Regions from separate parts of the Homo sapiens genome. Here region 2 is linked to region 1. Evidence: fine-mapped expression QTL. A gene starts in region 1. The other region holds a variant in brackets. All regions are shown on one strand. Distances are between the middles of the regions.

Region 1 (5,386 bases):
TAGGGCCATGAGAACGAACGTTTTCATGATGAAAAATGCTCTGCGGATGCTGCCTACTAAATCCCCCTGGGGAGGGTCACAATGTACATCTGTGAACTGAAGGCTTTACATGCGAATGATGTGAAAAGAAATCCTGTTTAACATTACTTCATGGATAAATCGAGTATTTGCCCCAAAGAAGCCTTCTCTGCTTGGGCATGCATTATATTCTGGTCCAACCACTCATTCCTCCACATCACTTAGGCTGTCCTAGGTGCAGGCTCTCCTAAGGGGTGGTTGCCCTTTGATTTCCTCCTTGCCTTTTGCACTTTCGCAGCTTATAGATATAGAAGATAACCAATAAAATCTGGTACCAAACAGTCACACATCTAGGCTTTATGCTACCTACCTATGCTGTCCAATACCAGAGTCACATGCCACATGTAGCTATTCCTATTTCTATTAATTAAAACTATTTAATTTTAAATAAATTAAAAATTCAATTTTTCAGTTGCACCAGCCACATTTCAAGTGCTCAAATGAATGTGTGGCTTGTGGCTACAACACTGGTCAGAGCAGATACAAACATTTCCATCTTCTCAGAAATTTCTGAGGAATAATGCCACAATAAACCTTGTCAATCATAGAAGGAATTCTGTTAACCTTCTCATCATGTCCATATCCGCATGAGAATGTGAGATCGCTGAAAGCAAGAATGAGATTTTCTCATCTCTGAACCCCAGCTCCTAGTCCAGGGCCCTGCAGGAAAGGCCACTCACAAAATAACTGCTAGATGATATGAATGTTTCCTCTTTGCTCCCAAAAATGTGCCAACCTTTGTCGCAACACTTTACCATACTTTTCCCTCAAAAAAAACTTTTATTAGTTTTTATTTATTTAAAAAGTAATACAGAATACTGAAAGAAGATTTAAAAATCCACATGTAATACTCCCACCTACAGAATGCCACTCTTAACATTTTGGAGTATTTACATTCATTTATTTACAAACAGATTTTTTGTCATTTGTTGAGGCATATTTTGCATATGGTAAAATTCACCCTTTTAAGGTGATGTGTGTATGACGTATGATGAATGTAACAACCACTACAATCAAGATACAAATTATTTCCATCACCCTCAAAAAGTCACCTCCTCACCTTTGTAATTAAGCCACTCTCCCCAACCGCTCTCCAGCAATCACTGATCCAATTTCTGTTCCTAGGGTTTCAACTGTTCAAGAATGTCATGTACATGGAATTATATAGGAAGTAGCTTTTTTTAGTCTGGGTTCTTCCATTTAACGTGTTGCTTTTGAGATTCATCCATGTTTCCCTTTTTATTGCTGAGTTATATTCTATGATATAGATACACCACAATCTGTTTACCCATTCTACAGTTGAACTTCGGAGTTGTTTCTAACTTTTGGCAATCCTGATAGAGCTGTTATAAACATTTGCACATAGGGTTTTGTGTGTACATATGTTTTCATCACTCTTGGGAGAATTCCTAGCAATTGGATTGTTAGTCATATATAGTAAGTGTATGTTGAATTTTATAAGAAACTGTCAAACTGACTTCCAGAACACCTTTGCTTTTTTGCGTTTCCCCCAGCAATGTATGAGAGTTTCAGTTGCTCTGCGTCTTCACCAGCATTTTGTATTTTCCTTTTTTTTCTTGTCTTGAGCCATCCTAATACATATGTAGTGGTATTTTATTGTGGCTTTAATTTGCATTTCCCTAATGACTAATGATGTCGAGCATCTTTTTGTGTGATTATGTGTTGTCAATATCCTTACTTTGTAATGTTTTATTTGAATCTTTTGCCCATTTTTAATTGGGTTGTCTGCTTTCTTATTATTGAGTTGTAAGAATTCTTTATACATTCTAAATGTCGGTACTTCATCAGAAATGCATTTTACAGATATTTTCTCCCAGTTTGTAGCTTGTTTTTATTTTCTTAACAGGGTTTTTCGAAGAGCAGACAACTGCTCTTCAAGTTGTTTTTTAACTGTACTGAAGAACAAAGAAATTTTTATAAATATCTGCCACATGCTAAACTTTTATTGGCGCTGGAATTACAATAATGGCTAAGCTTAAAGTTGTATTTTTCCTTTTTAGCAAAATTGGCATTGATTGGTTTCTTGTCTACTTTTTCACTATCTTATCGTTAATATTTCTACATCATTAAATATTATTTGAAAACATGATTGTAAGGTATACTCTCACAGTGATTTCTTGATTCATCTTAACTATCCCTCTGTATTTGGAGATGTTTATCTTGATTCCCATCAATATTTTAAAAAGAAAAGAAGCATATGATTCCCATCCTTGCGCAGAAATCTCTGTATACATTTCCAATTATTTTCTTAGTATAAATGCTTATAATTGCAAAAACTGGGACAGAGGCACAGGACTTTGCTCTATACCTGTCTCTTTAGAAAGACTACAGATGTCCTGAAGCAAAGAGCTTGTCTTGGCCCCCTTGTCATGCCAGAATATGACAAAAGCCTGTTACATTGCAGGTGCACTATACACACTTGAGGGATCAACGGTTGGAGAGAAAAAGAATTCCACTGAACTCCATCCTCTCCCTTTCCTCCTGTGGAAAAAAAAGAAAGAAAAGAATATCCTGTCTCCTGCAGACATCTACCTTGCCTTCCCAGATGAAGGGAAGAAGAAAGTCTTCTTCTAAGAGAAAACTTGCCAAGGAGATGCAGGTTTCCCAGAGAGCTGGATGACAAGCCCTGTTGCTGCTCAGCAATGCCCTTAAGGGGCCCTGCCCCCTGCCTTTATAAAGCCGGTGCGGTGGTGGGGCAGCCACAGCTGGCATTCAGCCTCCAGAGCACCAGCACTGGCACTGGCACTGGCACACGCTATGGCAAATGAAGTGCAAGACCTGCTCTCCCCTCGGAAAGGGGGACATCCTCCTGCAGGTAGGCTGCCACCTGCCCTCAGTCCTGCAGGCTGTTGCTGCTCCCCTCTTCCACCAATGCCTTCCATGGAGCACCCCGACAGACGGAAGCTTCTCTGTCTACCCAGTATGACTTTAACTCCATGCAGCCTGACTTCCTCTTATGTCTTTGATCCTTCTTAGCTTGTATGTAAATCCACCCGGGGATTTGTCAGACCCCCAGTGAGTTAAAACCTAATTACCTACGGCAGTGTATGGATTTGGGGCTTGTGGAAAGGCATAGGTAGAGAGGTTGCACCTTTCCTCCCTCGAGGCAGCATTCCTTTCACGGGGCCCTGGCTGTAGATTAGCAGTGACACATCTACACCAGGAAGATGATTTGCTACCATGGAAACCTTTCTCTTTAGAGGTTCCAGCTGTAAGACTCAGTCTCCCCAAGATGCCTGTGCATCATGTGACTTCCTACCCAGGCAAAGCAGCTTCTGCACAGAGGACAACAATCACATTTCTTTCTCCCTCCTCAGGCTTTGGGGATGTATTTACCTGTCAACAAGCTGAGAAGTACTTTTAAATAAAGACACAGGACTTGAGGAGGCTGACTGGAAAAAGTAGCTGTCAAGGTGTTTGCAAAGCATCCATAGTTGTCTTTTTTTTTAATTTATGCTATCTATATTGACTCTCTGGAATATGGAAATTAGTTTTATTGTACTTAACCATATGTTCATATAGATTGGCTGAGGTGTACAGGCCTATTTTTAGTCAGTTTTATATTCTTCCAACTGCCTTCCTTCTTTTTTACTGAAGAAAGAACTCAAAAGCTTGACTGCTTTGTTCTTGCCTTTCTCCATTTACAAAAACATATTTACTGTCTAATTCTCTGGCACCTCTAGGCCAAGGTTATTTCAATAATCTTTGCTGCAGAGGGTGATGGCGGGTATTGTCTTCACAGAGAGTCAAAATGTAACATTGTTTTGGTGGCTTTCCGGCGGGTAGCCTGGCCAAAAAGAGTCCAGATTTTACTACTCATTCTGAGTTTCCAGCTCTAGACATCTTGGTCTGATCTCCTCTGGTAGATTACTGATGTTTTATATTTGTAATCAAATTTAGCAATATTTAACATTACCTATATTTAAAGTTAATTATGCTAGCTAATAGTCAGGAAGTATATATGCAAATCATTGGAAGACAGGCTCCTTACATAGACAAAGACAAAAGAAAAAAGAACTCCATTCTCATTATGTTGTTTCCACTCCAACCCTTCATAAAATGGCTAAGATGAAACCTGTTTTGCTAAACTACATTTATGCACAAAGAACACAGACATAAACTTAACCAAATGAAAGTTCGAATGAAACCACCGGGAACTTTCTGTCCCCACCACTAATGATTGCTAATTACTCTGTGTACATAGCACACCATGACTCCATCAAGCATGTCACAATGCCTCTGGCATGACAATTAATTATTATGAACTGTGACACTACAGATAAGAGGTTTTGGATAATTAGAATGGAGATGAAGGCAGACTTTTGCCTCCCCACTGAGCACAAGGGAACAAAGAAGTGTCATCCTTCAGCCTGTCTTGCCACTAATTTTAAGTCTGAATCTGTTTGTGGTGGTGCAAAATTTTATTTATGGAACAAAAACAAGTGCCAAAATTCTGTTAATTTTTCACTTGATTTTTATAAGCAAAATACAGATCCCTAAAAGTGGGAAGAAGATACGATTCGGTGGGGAGGGTGGGACATACATAGCCTTTGGAATCAGACAGACCTGGGTTTGAACCTCAACTTCATTTCACATCTTCGAGCCTGAGTTTCCTCATCTCTGAAACAGGATGCAATAAATAACATCTATCTAGTAAGTTTGTTGTAATGATTAAAAGAGATCACCTCTGTAAAGTATCTGGCACCTGAATGTTAGCCCCCTTAAAATGCAGGCCCGGTAGAACACATCACTATCAAAAGAAATTATCCTCCCCAATTTCAAGACATCCTGATGCTGGAGCGGCATTAGACACTACTGCAGTAGTTGGAACAGAAAGAAACTGCAATGGAAAAAATATGTGCCTATCCCATCACAGTTAAAAATGAAATCACTCAGCTGGGTACAGTAGCTCACGCCTGTAATCCCAGCACTTTGGGAGGCCGAGGTGGGTGGATCACCTGAGGTCAGGAGTTCAAGACCAGCCTGGCCAACATGGTGAAACTCCATCTCTATTAAAAATACAAAAATTAGCCGGGCGTGGGGCATGTGCCTGTAATCCCAGCTACTTGGGAGGCTGAGGCAGAAGAATCGCTTGAACCCAGGAGGCAGAGATTGCGGTGAGCAGAGATCACGCCACTGCACTCCAGCCTGGGCAACAAGAGTGAGACCCCGTCTGAAAAAAAAAAAAATCACTTAGAAGTCAGCCTGCTGCATCTCTTTCCTACCTATCTATGGAGCAGTCAATGGTTTCACTTTAATGTATATTAATATAATATATTGCATCTCT
Region 2 (5,386 bases), 35 kb after region 1:
TTTGTGCTATGTTTATTTTTGTAATATTTTTAAAATTTTGAAATCATGTTTACTATTTGGGTGACAGAATGGACTATTTGGGCTTCCAACAGAAGCCCAAACCTCAGCATCATGCAATATGTCCATGTAACAAACCTGCACATGTACCCCAAATCTAAAATTTATTTATTTATTTATTTATTTATTTAATTTATTTGTTTATTTTGAGATGGAATCTCGCTCTATTGCCCAGGCTGGAGTGCAGTGGCGTGAACACAGCTCACTGCAGACTTGAACTCCTGGACTCAAGTGATCCTCCCACCTCAGCATCCCAAAGTGCTGGGATTACAGGCATGAGCCACCGTGCCCAACCTAAATTTTTTTTTTAAGGAAAAAAATAAAATAAAACTTACCATCATTTCTAAATCAAGTGCTAAACATTAAAAAAGACTCTCTAGGCCAAAAACTAAGAATATACTGATGCTTCTCAAATGGTAACAAGGCACACTGGGAATAGTACTGGCCTACATCCGACATTATTTTTTTATAGTTATTTTAAATAGAAAATACACTTAGACGAGTGAAAACTCTGAACACTATGAAAAGGTAGGTACTGAGAACTGTCATTCCTTCCCATCCCCATCTACTCCGTTGCCTCTCACACTCTACAGGTAACCATATTTATTCATTTCTGATTTCTCTTTCCAGTGATTACTTATGCAAATACAAACAAATATGAATATATATTATTCCCCTCCCTCCTTTTTACACAAAAGGAGGCATGCCGTACACACCATTCTGTGCTTTGGTTTGGTCACCTAGCAGTATATGCTGTAGTCTCTTCAGCCTGACATCCTTTTAGGATGTCATCCCTGCCTGTAGAAAAGTGAACATGATTGCTGCTTCTATTTATTCACACAGAGAGTGTGCCCAAGCCTGATACCTGGCTCTGGATTAAATGAACTGTGCTTTGTATTTGCACTTCACAGCTGGCTAGAAAAGTCAACTCCTACAATTGTCAAAGGTCAAGTTCAGAATGTCTAGACACTTTCTTAAATATTCCGACTTGTTTTGAACTTCAAGGAAAAATGAAACTTCAAATATTTTTCTTGAAAGAACACAGAGAAGATGGGCTGGCCACAGAGTTTACTTACATTTTCATGATTCCTTTTTTAAATGCTTCACTCGGGGAATTTTCAGACAATCTTTGTTTTGTATTCCTGCCCTTTGTTATACATGGCTGCAACCCAGAACTGTCAGAGGAGATTAAGTTTATAAAAGAAGAGTTTCTACATTTTTGAAATATTTTGACTAAGTGAAATCATTTTTTTTTCTATCTGCAATGCAATTCAGCTCAGTTCGACAGATATTTACTGGGCCTTGTGCAAACCACTGAGCTTTAATAGATGAATGAGACATTGCTCCTGGCTTCAGGTGAACACAAATAATGTCTCTTTACTGTGGAAACTGCTATGGTACACAAGCAGGCACAGGCTGCTAGAGGAGGACAAAAGAAGAATGCTGAGCTCTGCCTCATTAGAGAAAATGAGCTAAGTCATGAAGACCAGTAAAAGCTGAGCAGAAAAAGAAGGGCAGGAGCAGCAGAAGCAAAGGTCATGAAGTTTCATGAACACGCAAAGGTAACTACTATAGGTGGGAAAGTAGCAAACTGTTTGAGCATCATTAGAGTCCACAGCAGGAGACACAGCTGCAAAAGGGAGAGCCTTGTATGGCCTGCCAGGGAGTTTGGACTTGAATCTAAGCAGTGGTTAAAGAAAGGACCTTGGTCAGGTTTCCTTTTAGAAGGCTTGTCTTGGCTTTGATATGGAGGATGAATACGGGAAGGGATAAATCTATAGGCGGAGAGCCATAGAGGCCAAAAGGAGGCGTATATTAGAAAGGTTTGGGCAGCAGACACTGCAGGGCTTGATGATTGCTGGTCTGTGAGTGGGAGGAGTCCAGGAGGATCCTTGGTCCTGACTCGTGTGACTCAGGGAATGATGGTGCCATTTATTTATTTATTTATTTATTTATTTATTATTTTATATCTTTATTTATTTATTTGAGATGGAGTCTTGCTCTGTCACCCAGGCTGGAGTGCAATGGTGCGATCTCGGCTCACTGCAATCTCTGCCTCCCAGGTTCAAGTGATTCTCCTGCCTCAGCCACCCGAGCAGCTGGGATTACAGGCGCGTGCCACCATGCCCAGCTAATTTTTGTATTTTTAGTAGAGGCGGGGTTTCACCATGTTGACCAGGCTGGTCTCGAACTCCTGACCTCTGGTGATCTGCCTGCCTCAGCCTCCCAATGTGCTGGGATTACAGGCATGAGCCACCACACC[C/T]GGCCGACGGTGCCATTAAATGAATCAGGGAAACACAGCAGAAGGAGGGAGAGGATGATGGGGTCTGTTTGAGTCCTGTTGAATGTGAGGGTAGCAGGCAGATGCAGCTATGAATCTGATGATCAGAGGCGAGTTCTGGTATGAAAAATACGTATTCAAGCATTATACTAGTTTCCTGAGGCTACTGTAACAAATTACCATAAATTTAGTAGCTTAAAACAACATAAATTTACTCTGTTATGATTCTGGAAGTTAGAAGTCTAAAATTAGTCTCACTAAGCTAAAGTCAAGGTGTCAGCAGGGCTGGTTCCTTCTGGAGGCTCTAGGAGAGAATCCTTTTCCTTCTCTGCTCCGAGAGACTGCCTGCATTCCTCAGTTTCTGGCCCTTAATCCATCTTCAAAGCCAGGAGTGCAGCGTCTTGCTTCTGTTGTCGCATAGCTTTCTTCTTCTGTAGTCATGCCTCCCTCTGCCTCCCTTCTATCAGGACACGTGTGATTACATTGCACAGATAATCCAGGATAATATTCCCATCTCAAGATCACAATTGCACATTTTGCTTGATAAGGTATTATTCACAGGTTCCAGAGATTAGGACCTGGACATCTTTGGAAGCATTATTCAACCTACTATGTGTTGATAGCATAAAGTTAGTGAGAGTAGATACAACCGATGAGGTGAATGTGTATGGAGAGAAAAGCATGAGATCAAGACCAGAACACTAGAAACACCAAAGTTAAGAGAGTGAGCATTGGACTAGGCATGGTGGCTCATGCCTGTTACCCCAGCACTTTGGGAGGCCGAGGTGGGTGGATCGCTTGAGCCCAGGAGTTTGAGACCAGCCTGGGCAACACAGTGATACCCTATCTTTACAAAGAAAATAAACAAAATTAGATGGGCATGGTGGCATGTGCCTATAGTCCCAGCTACTTGGAAGGCTGAGGTGGGAGGATCACTTGAACCCCAGTGGTTGAGGCTGCAGTGAGCCAAGATCGTGCCACTACCCTCCAGTCAGGGAAACAGAACAAGACCCTGTCTCAAAAACTAATAATAATTGACTGGGCGCGGTGGCTTACGCCTGTAATCCCAGCACTTTGGAGGCCAAGGTGAGTGGATCACTTGAGGTCAGAAGTTGAAGACCAGCCTAGCCAACATGGTGAAACCCGTCTCTACTAAAAATACAAAAAATTGGCTGGGTGCAGTGGCTCATGCCTGTAATCCCAGCACTTTGGGAGGCCGAGGCGGGCAGATCGCGTGGTCAGGAGATCAAGACCATCCTAGCTAACACGGTGAAACCCTGTCTCTTCTAAAAATAGAAAAAATTAGCTGGGCATGGTGGCGGGCGCCTGTAGTCCCAGCTACTCGGGAGGCTGAGGCAGAAGAATGGCATGAACCAGGGAGGCAGAGGTTGCAGTGAGCCAAGATTGTGCTACTGCACTCCTGCCTCGGTGACAGAGCAAGACTCCGTCTCAAAAAAATAAATAAATAAATAAATAAATAAAATAAAATAAATAAAAATAAAAATACAACAAATTAGCTGGGCCTGGTGGCGCATGCTTGTAATCCCAGCTACTCGGGAGGCTGAGTCAGGAGAATTGCTTGGACCTGGGAGGCGGAGGGTGCAGTGAGCTGAGATCGTGCCATTGTACTCCAGCCTAGGTGACAAGAGCAAAACACCATCTCAAATAATAATAATAATAATAATTTTTTAATGAGTGAGCATTGGAAGAAGGAACCCAAAGAAGATGGAGAAGGAAGGCTGACCAAGGAGAGCACCAGGAAAGAACTGGTGTCATGGAGGGGAAGAATGGAGAGTTACAGGGAACAGTGGCAGGTGACATTTAGTAAACCACTTAGAGGTCCCTGGGCGTCTTTTCCATGGCGGTGTCAGTGAAGTGCAAGGGGTAGAAATCAGATGGCAGCAAATAACAGTCATGGTAATGGGGACAGATAGACAACCTTTTCAACAAGCTGGCTAAGAAGAAAAGAAAAGAGGCATGATGGCAACTAGAAAGAAATGCGGACTCAACAAGGGAAGCGATTTTGTGTTGTTCTGCTTTGTTTCTAAGAAGACGTGAGTTTGGAGCATGTTGGTAGGCTGAAAAGAAAGAGCCCATGGATTGGGAGAGGCTAAAGATTTATGCGGGAAAGACTCACTGAGAGAACAAGTTTCCAAAAGCAGCTGATGGGTAGGAATTCAAAAGCGCAGATCAGTGAAATTTAAAATATGCCTATCCTTTGATGCAGTTTCTCAGAATTTGTCTTCCAAGAAAAAAAAATTTTTTAAACTTATACAAATGTTCACATAAGGAGGAAAAATTGTATAAAATTGTTCAAAGGCAAAGAGATAGATGTACGTACAGGAGTATTCAATGCAGTATCACCAGCAAAAGGGAAAATTTGAAACAATTCACATGTCTATCAGAAAAGATTAGTTAAGCTATGGATTACAGAATCACTTTAAAGTCTTGCGGTGGAAAGATCTCCCTCATAGTATATGATTTCCAGACATAATAAAAGTTGATAACAAAAGTATACAGCCTCTATAGACTCCACAAATAAGTCTGGAAAAAAAAACAGTTCTAGTCTACCTAATATATTTAAAAACTCCTTCAAATTCTTTTTTTTTTTTTTTTTGGAGACAGAGTCGCCCTCCATCCCCCAGGCTGGAGTGCAGTGGCATGATCTCGGCTCACTGCAACCTCTGCCTCCTAGGTTCAAGTGATTCTCCTGCCTCAGCCTCCCAAGTAGCTGGGATTACAGGCACCCACCACCACACCCAACTAATTTTTTGTATTTTTAGTAGAGATCGGGTTTCACCATGATGGCCAAGATGGTCTCAAACTCCTGACCTCAAGGGATCCACCAGCCTTGGCCTCCCAAAGTGCTGGAATTACAGGCGTGAGCCACCATGCCAGCCCAAATTCATTTTTTAAAATAACAGCCTAATAGAAAATATGGGCAAAAGCTAGAAACTGGCATTTCATAGATAACAAACTTGAACAGCAAATATATATATATATTTTTTTTAATAATCAATCTCATTAAGAATGAAAGCTATGTAAATG

What was found. PIP is the estimated chance that this variant, and not a neighbour inherited with it, causes the effect.
Region 2: its variant is the best candidate, but not a certain one, in a credible set for the expression of DAPL1 in esophagus mucosa (GTEx, PIP 0.79).

What each region holds. Positions count from the first base shown.
Region 1 is chr2:158,792,517-158,797,902 of GRCh38, forward strand. DAPL1 (death associated protein like 1) reads left to right here and starts at 2,801. Exons shown (of 4, transcript NM_001017920.3): 1 at 2,801-2,914. The coding sequence starts at 2,857. RefSeq lists an enhancer at 227-396.
Region 2 is chr2:158,827,677-158,833,062 of GRCh38, forward strand. LOC124907901 (a long non-coding RNA gene) reads left to right here and starts at 392. Exons shown (of 3, transcript XR_007087272.1): 1 at 392-1,619. The variant C/T (reference allele first, on the strand shown) is at 2,321.